Linked DNA regions of Homo sapiens: region 2 is linked to region 1. The links come from fine-mapping of genetic effects on gene expression. A gene starts in region 1. The other region holds a variant in brackets. All regions are shown on one strand. Distances are between the middles of the regions. Region 1 holds the start of TMEM170A (transmembrane protein 170A). Region 2 overlaps TMEM170A (transmembrane protein 170A).

Region 1 (4,389 bases):
TTCAGGCGTGAGCCACTGTGCTTGGTAGAATTTCTTATTTCTATCTTTTTCTTCTTGTTCTATTTATTTTTCTTTTCCTTTCTTTATTATGATTAATTTGGTGGAGCAACACCATTTATTTCCAGGGCCAGCATTGGATATAGCACAATTATGGAAAAAGGCTGTCAGCCACTGTCACAAAAAAATCCTACAGAATCTGAAATGCCAACAAGAAGTCTAGCTGCGCCAGAAAATACCTGTGAATCACAGGTTTTTCCATTTCAACTTATATGACAAAAAGTTTCAGCTTTAATTATTTACTAAATTCCTGAGCCATCTTTAAATTCTTGTGGGGTTTTTTGTTTGTTTATTTGTGTGTTTGTTTTTTGAGACAGGGCCTTCTTCTGTTGCCCAGGCTGGAGTACAATGGAGCAATGATAGCTCACTGCAGCCTTGACCTCTGGGGCTCAAGGGATCCTCCCACCTCAGCCTCTGGAGTTAGCTGGGACTATAGGTGTGTGCCACTACACCCGACTAATTTTTGAATTTTTAGTAGAGACAAGGTTTACCTATGTTGCCCAGGCTGGTCTCAAACTCCTGGGCTCAAGCAATCCTGCAGCCTTGGCCTCCCAAAAGTGTTGGGTTTACAGGCATGAGCCACCTTGCTTGGCAGATCGGTGAATTGGTCACTTTTTAAAAAGATTTTAAAAGGTATGATTTATGTAGCATAAAATTCATTTATTTTAACTGTACAATTCAATGATTTTTAAAGAAGTTTTCAGGCTGGGCACGGTGGCTCACGCCTGTAATCCCAGCACTTTGGGAGGCCAAGGTAGATGGATCACCTGACGTCAGGAGTTTGAGACAAACCTGACCAATATGGTGAAATTCCATCTCTGCTAAAAATACAAAAATTACCTGGGCATGGTGGCACGGAGCTATAATCCCAGCTACTTGGGAGGCTGAGGCAGGAGAATTGCTTGAACCCGGGAGGCGAAGGTTGCAGTGAGCCGAGATTGCGCCACTACACTCCACTCCACTCCAGCCTGGACGACAGAAAAAGACTGCGTCTCAAAAAAAAAAAAAAAAAAAAAAAAAAAAAAAAAAAATTTACCAGTCAGGTGCAGTGGCTCACGCCTGTAATCCCAGCACTTTGGGAGGCCAAGGCAGGTGGATCGCTTGAGGTCAGGAACGAGACCAACATGGATAACATGGCAAAACCCTATCTCTACTCAAAATACAAAAATTAGCTGGGCCTGGTGGCACGCGCCTGGAATCCCAGCTACTGGGGAGGCTGAGGCAGGAGAATCGCTTGAACCAGGGAGGCGGAGGTTGCGGTGAGCTGAGATTTCGCCACTGCACTCCAGCCTGGGCAACAAAGTGAGACTCTGTCTCAAAACAAACCAACCAACCAAACAAAAACATTATTATTCGTCACAAGCCTCTTCATCACCTGGAACCTTGTGGACATTACTTATCCTTGGTAACTTCCCTTCCAGAACACTATTGTTAATGGCTGCTATGGTCTGAACGTGTTCCCCCAAATTCATGTCCTGAAACTTCGTGGGAATGCGATAGTACTGAGAGGAGGGGCCTTTAGGAGACGATTAAGTCAGAAGAGTGGAGCCCCCGTTATGGGATTAGGACCCTTATAAAAGGGATTTGGAGAGTGGGCTCCCTTTGTTACCGTGTGAGGACGCCCGGGCGGTGCTATCAGTGAGGAACGGGCCGTCCTTAGACATGGAACCTGCTGCGACCTTGATCTTGGACCTCCCAGCTTCCAGAACTGTGAGAAAATAAATTTCTGTTCTTAATAAATTGCCCACTCTCAGGTACTTTGTTACAGCAGTGCAAACAAACTGAACATTAGCTTATTCCTTTTTACGATTTCTCTGCCTTCATTTTAACAGGCTTTCTGAAGGGAGGTGAGACAAAAATGTGTGATCCACGAGGACAGGAAATCGAGACCATCCTGGCTAACACGATGAAATCCCGCCTCTACTAAAAATACAAAAAATTAGCCGGGCGTGGTGGCGGGCGCCTGTAGTCCCAGCTACTCGGGAGGCTGAGGCAGGAGAATGGTGTGAACCCGGGAGGCAGAGCTTGCAGTGAGCAGAGATCGCGCGGCCGCACTCCAGCCTGGGTCACAGAGGGAGACTCCGTCTCAAAAAAAAGAAAAAAGTGTGATCTAATTTTATTGCTCTGAACCGAATCTCTGTACATTTTATTTTATTTAAAACTAAGTCGAGCTCTATAGAGGCTACATAGCCTCCCTCCCATTCTGGTCCCACACCAGACTTTGCATGGGCTCTTTCTACTATCAGCTTTAAATAGAGAACGTTCTTGTTCTGTTCATGAAGGTTTCATAAATGCTGGAGTCCAGTCATAACTAGAACTTTACATATCCGTTCCATCACTGTATTTTTCCAGATCCCTGGTAACTCCATAGCGCGGCTCTGTTGGGGCGCATGCAATTCCCTACTTTCTCACAGGGGGCGCTGCAGAGAAGGGCAGAGCAGAGCGCGCGGTCCCAGAGCGCGCCGTCCAGGAGGGGGCGCGTCCGTGGGGCTGTGTCTCTGCGAGCCCTGCGCAACGTTGGGGGCGGGAACAACCCTGGCCCTGCGCCCGAGCGCTGCGGCGCCTTGTGATTGGAGGAGGCAACGGTCACTTGGCAGCGCCGTTGGGATTGGGGGAAGAGGACCCCGGCTGGAGGTGACGCTGAGGCGGCGAGGGTGAGTCGGCGCCGGCCGCTACCGCACTTCGGGCGCTCGTCCCTCATTTCTCTGTGGTGAATGGCGACGGGATGGAGCGCGAGGGGAGCGGCGGCAGCGGCGGGTCGGCCGGGCTCCTGCAGCAGATCCTGAGCCTGAAGGTTGTGCCGCGGGTGGGCAACGGGACCCTGTGCCCCAACTCTACTTCCCTCTGCTCCTTCCCAGGTACGGCCCGCCCCGCGCCTGCGCACTGCGCGCCCCGCCGTCGCCGCTGCCGTGCTGTGGGCGCCCCGAGTCTGGGCGGGGTCCCGGGTGCGCAGCCTGCTGGCGGCGTGGGCGCTGTCCTCCGGGAGGGGGGCCGTGCTGCTCGCCCGGAGCCCCTTTCCCCATCACTTCTTCGGCGGTCCCTGAGGCGGAGCCCCGGAGTCCCGCTGGGCGTGAGATGCAGAGAGCGGCCGCAGGTGGGCCCGGGGCTGGAGGGCGCTCGGCCGCCACCCGAGCGGGTCTTGGCCTTGAGCTTCCGAGCGCCTCAGGTTCAGAGCTGCACCCCACGAGCCCGGGAGGCTGTGGTCCCCGCCCTGCCTGGGTTGCCCCACGGCGCCCGGCCTCCTTCGAGGGGTCTCGGAGCGGCCCGGCCGCGCTGAGGAGTCAGAGCTCGCGCTCCCCTTGCCCCGGGGCTGCAGCCCGGCCCCTCCGCGCAGGCGCTCGTTCGCTGATCGCGGGCGCCTGGGGCTAAATCCTCCCCCTCCGAGACCCGCTCCGCTTTCTAGGAATCTTTCCCAGACCTGGTGCCACCTGTTGCTGGGTCTCCCACTAAGCCTTCGAGATCTTTGGCACAGCTTCCTTTGAACTCTTCCTCCCCGCTGCGGCTTGAGCTGGGCCTGCTAGGAGGGTTGCTCAGAATTCTAATGCCAGGAAGAGCGCTCCGTGCCCTGAAAGCTGGAGGGAGGAGAGAGGACTTCACTTGGGAAGGAGGAGAAAAGCTTTGAGGGGAGGCACAGTTATTTGTGTGGTCCTTGAAAGGCAAGAAGACTAGAGCCCGTGGCCCTGGAAGGGGAGGTGGGGCTCCCAGCAGAGGGGACTGAGGTCTTCATAAACAATGAGGGACCAGAGCAGAGGGAAGGAGGACGAGATTCCAGACTCTAGTTCCAAACAAGGCACCTGTGATTTCTCATCCCCTGGGCAGCGACTGCCAGGCGCCGTTCAGCGGACACCTGGGACTTGCAGTGTTATGTGCCCAGGGATTTTCCCGGACGGGATTGTGAAGTAGCGGGTAAGGTCATCAGGCAGGTTGGGGTCAGATGCAGATGTTCGCTTGTGGTCATTCCTGAAATGAGAATCTGGCAGCTCACGTTATTTCAGAAGGTGCTAGGATCACTTTTGACAGTGATATCAAAAAATTGATGGTATTCTGGTGACCCTGTGTGATACATGAAATGTTCGTGCAATCTGGAGGCACTACTGGGACCAGATTAATCTTTGTTTCCTTAATTTTCCCCTTTCCTGAAAAATGTCAAGCCTGCCAAACAGTTGAGAGAACAGTATAACAAATACCCATGTACCCTTTACTTAGACTCAGTAATATTTTGATTCTTTGGCTTTCTGTTTCTCTTTCTCTCTCTCTGCTCTCTTTCTCTCTCTCTATATATATAACCACATGTATTACATACGTATCACACTTAGATGTAGGTCACATGTC
Region 2 (4,389 bases), 21 kb after region 1:
TTACAGGCACCTGCCACCGTGCCCGGCTAATTTTTGTATTTTTAGTAGAGATAGGTTTCACCATCTTGCCCAGGCTGGTCTTGAACTCCTGACCTTGTGATCCACCCGCCTCGGCCTCCCAAAGTGCTGGGATTACAGGCGTGAGCCACCGCGCCTGGCCATAAATCTGACATCTTTAAAGGAAAGTTTTCATTGTGAGATTAAGGCTTAACAGCCCATGAGGTCATATACACATGAACGTATCTATTCCATTTAAAGCAATACACACTCTGGCTTCTGATTAAAAATAGCCAGGAGGAGAGTCTCTGAATCTACTGTGATTCTGGAGTCTGCCCAATTTGGAAAAAAAAAAAAAAGAAAAAAGTCAGGAGGACCAATTTGCCAGGGAAACTCATAGAAAAGAATTACAAAGAGATCACAAAAACTGGACATATTCTTTTGACTAATTAGACCACTTATGGCTGGGCGCAGTGGCTCACACCTATAATCCCAGCACTTTGGGAGGTCGATGTGGGAGGATTGCTTGAGCCCAAGAGTTCAAGACTGGCCTGGGCAACATAGTGAGACCTTGTCTCTACTACAAAATAAAAAAAAATTAGCTGGGCGTGGCCTCAGCTACCCAAGAGGCTAAAGTGGGAGGATCACTTGTGCCTGGGAGGTTCAGGCTGCTGTGAGCCGAGACCACGCCACTGAACTCCAGCTTAGGCCACAGGGCAAGACCCTGTCTTAAAATAATATTACTAATTTTGGTAATTAACTTATCAAAACTATAGTGACATATACACGGGCAGAAACTTATAAGTAGAGTTGTAATGCAGCCAAATATTCTTACAAATTCCCTAACAAGAAGCTCAAATCTTTCTCACAGGCAAATTGTAAAAATTCTAGTTTTTTGTTTAAAGAGCTGTGATTTTCAAAAGTATCCCTTCAGTTTAAGAAATCTGGGGAATTGGTAACTTTTCTTATGGGAAATGATTGCCATCATCTCTACTGAAGGATGCCTCTTACTGAAAAATGTCTTTTGAAGGAGTTCTTGCCTAAAGCATTCTTTGGATGTAATTTCATACACTAAACATATAGACCAGTAGTTAGTGGGCCCCTCCTCTTAAACAGTAACTTTTGAAGTACTGATACATGATTAAAATGTTAGATATTTTTCACTGGAGCTAAGACTTAAAATTAGGGCATTTTGAAAGGTGTATTTGTTTCTGTTTCTTGTTTGATATATTTTGGTTATCTACTCTTTTAAAAAACTAAACGTATAAAAGGTATCTTCAAATTACTGAGTGTTTCATCCATCCCAGTAGGTGAAGTATTCTCCAGTGAATAAATCTATATATATATATAGATTTTAAATAGCTTGAGCGGTGTAGCTTGAAATGTTTTCAGGGAAAGACTATTTGAATCATAAGGAATAGCTTTGATTTTCTTTTTTATGTCTCAAATATAGAATTATTTGGGGGTGGTCACTCAGATGGAAGAATATTGGCAATTGTGTTGAACATTTTACCTTATATAGTTTTGAGAATTTTTGCCAAAAACTGATTTCTTAGAAATATCCTCCCCCAGCTGTGCTTTGGTTTTTTGGTTTTTTTGTTTTGAGACGGAGTCTTGCTCTGTCGCCCAGGCTGGAGTGCAGTGGCATGATCTCGGCTCACTGCAAGCTCTGCCTCCCGGGTTCACGCCATTCTCCTGCCTCAGCCTCCCGAGTAGCTGGGACTACGGACGTCCACCACCATGCCCAGCTAATTTTTTGTATTTTTAGTAGAGACGGGGTTTCACCGTGTTAGCCAGGATGGTCTCAATCTCCTGACCCGCCTCCACCTCCCAAAGTGCTGGGATTACAGGCATGAGCCACCACACCCGGCCTCTGCTTTGTTTTTTAAAAAAAAAGAAATGCAA[G/A]AGAGGGAGGGAGGCAGCCTCCTGACCATAAAAGCTGATTTCTTGATTTTTTTTTCTTTTTTTTTTGAAATGGAGTCTTGCTCTGTCTCCAAGGCTGGAGTGCAGTGGCATGGTCTCAGCTCACTGCAGCCTCCGTTTCCTGGGTTCAAGTGATTGTCCTGCCTTGGCCGCTGAGTAGCTAGGATTACTGGCACCCGCCACAAGGCCCAGCTAATTTTTGTATTTTTAGTAGAGACAGGGTTTGATTATGTTGGACAGGCTGGTCTCAAACTCCTGACTTCAAGTGATCCACCCGCCTCGGCCTCCCAACGTGATGGGACTATAGACATGAGCCATCATGCTTGGCCTTCTTGATTCTTGAATACGGGGTTTTGAGGTGAAAGCATTTCATGAAAACTTAAGTTCATACACAAGAGCATCATGAATATTCTAAAAGAGGTATCTGTGCTTTTTTTGTGACCACAAAATATTACTTCTTATGAAATGTTTACACTAGGTGAGGAAAAGTTCATTAATTACCTTTAAACCGTTCCTTATTTTTTTTAAGATTTTAAATTGTATTTTGGCTTTTGCCTCCAGTATCCTTTCTGGTTGCTCTGGTTTGAATTAAGTTCCTATTATGCTGCAGCACATATCAACCTTCCCTAAGTAACCATTTCCTGGAATGTGAAGCATCGGTGCCATTAGCAGACCATATGCAGAAATGTCGTGTACTTGCATTTCTTTTTTGTGCACTCTATAAGGCTGGTTGTGACTCAGATCAGCTTAACTTTTTATATTATGTTATTTCACTAACTGCTACAGTCAAAATGATCAAATCTTTGTACAATAGAAAATTATTTAAATTTTATTTTTCTACTGACATTTCTAATTCTAGTGTAAATGTTTATCAATAAAAAATTACTTTCAATTCTGAGTTGGAATTATATTTCTTTTTGGTGGCTAATGAGTTTAATCTTTTGTAATAAAATTGACTTCAGTTTTCATTTTTTAAATAACTTAATATCTAGCATGTGTAACTTTTTTTATGTTCTACTTCTTACTAATTTATGATAAAATTCTTGTTCAAAGTTGTGATTAAACCGTACTTAACATGTGAACTTGAAATTCTTATTAACTCTACTTGCTGGGCCATATATTCCCATCAAGAAACTTTTGTTTGATTCTGTGCAGGAATAGGTGAGTATTGATACAGTGTGTGAAAATGTATTATTTTAATAGTAAGTCCACATGAAGAGAAGCTTCGTCGTGTTTGGTTAATTTAATACCCTTGGTGACATCATAAATCTCACTGTTCTGCCATTTTTAACAAATGGGACTAAGTTGGGTAGTTTACCTCATGGTCACAAGATTGCTGCAGTTCCAGCCATTGCAGACACATACAGAGAATGTCTGGCAGGAGATTGCCCATTCATTCCTTCTAATTTTCTAAAGTTGAGGTTTAACATGCAGTAAAGTGTACAAATCTTAAAATGTATAGCTTAATGAATTTTACATATATATATATATATATATATATATACTTAATGTGACTAATAGATCAAGAGACAGAATGTTTCTAGCACCCCGGAAAGATACGTACACAGTTCAGACAGAAGACCCCAAGACTGTATATGTATCTGGGAGTAAAGGTGCTGAGATCGGCAGGGAGGACACCCTAAATTATTACCGAGAAAACAGAACAGTGAACCAGGAATCTTTAGGGAGTTGGAGGGATTTGTGCTGTGGCCAAGTGGAGAGCCCTGTCCGAAGGAGTCAGCTATTGCTTGGCTCCAGCCTGTTTCTGCTTTATTCGATGATTAACCCAATCTTGCCAGATACTTATTTTCAAGAGAAGCTGGAAATCTAGGTTACTGTTTGAAATCTCTCCATTTTTAAGTGTTAGCAACTAATTTAAACTTGCGTAAAACACTTTTATTATTTATTTATTTATTTAGAGACACAGTCTCGCTCTGTTGCTCAGGCTGGAGTATAGTGGCGCGATCTTGGCTCACTGCAATCTTCACCTCCCAAGTTCAAGTGATTCTCCTGCCTCAGCCTCCCAAGTAGCTGGGATTACAGATGTGCGCCCCCAAACCTGGCTAATTTTTGTATTTTTAGTAGAGACGAGGTTTCACGGTGTTGGCCAGGATGGTCTCGAACTCCTGACCTCAAATGGTCCGCCCACCTTGGCTTCCCAAAGTGCTGGAATTACAGCCGCGAGCCACCTGTAATTGTGCGCCTTGCCGTAAAACACTTTTAAGTCATTACAATACATGATTTTAAGCTGGATTTGGCCTGCTCACCACCAATTTTTTTTCCATCTCAACTATTAGAAAGTAATTCCCACTCTGATTACCCTTAAAGCGGTCAGGAACTCTAGTTGTAAATCTGAACAATCACATGGAGTGCTAGGAGAAATGGGTGCTGGGGAGTGTCTGCCAGAGAACGCAGTGGCTCCTGTTCCCCAGACTCACCCCCAGTGATAGGGCAAAAGGGTACATCCTG

Evidence for each region. PIP is the estimated chance that this variant, and not a neighbour inherited with it, causes the effect. A credible set is the group of variants that fine-mapping cannot tell apart.
Region 2: its variant is the best candidate, but not a certain one, in a credible set for the expression of TMEM170A in sun-exposed skin (GTEx, PIP 0.60).

Annotation. Positions count from the first base shown.
Region 1 is chr16:75,462,994-75,467,382 of GRCh38, reverse strand. TMEM170A (transmembrane protein 170A) reads left to right here and starts at 2,694. Exons shown (of 3, transcript NM_145254.3): 1 at 2,694-2,915. The coding sequence starts at 2,783. RefSeq lists enhancers at 2,524-3,024, 4,214-4,263 and a silencer at 2,718-3,347.
Region 2 is chr16:75,441,667-75,446,055 of GRCh38, reverse strand. TMEM170A (transmembrane protein 170A) reads left to right here. Exons shown (of 3, transcript NM_145254.3): 3 at 1-3,002. Among named protein-coding and RNA genes, the nearest start is that of CFDP1, 10 kb to the right of the region's middle. The variant G/A (reference allele first, on the strand shown) is at 1,903.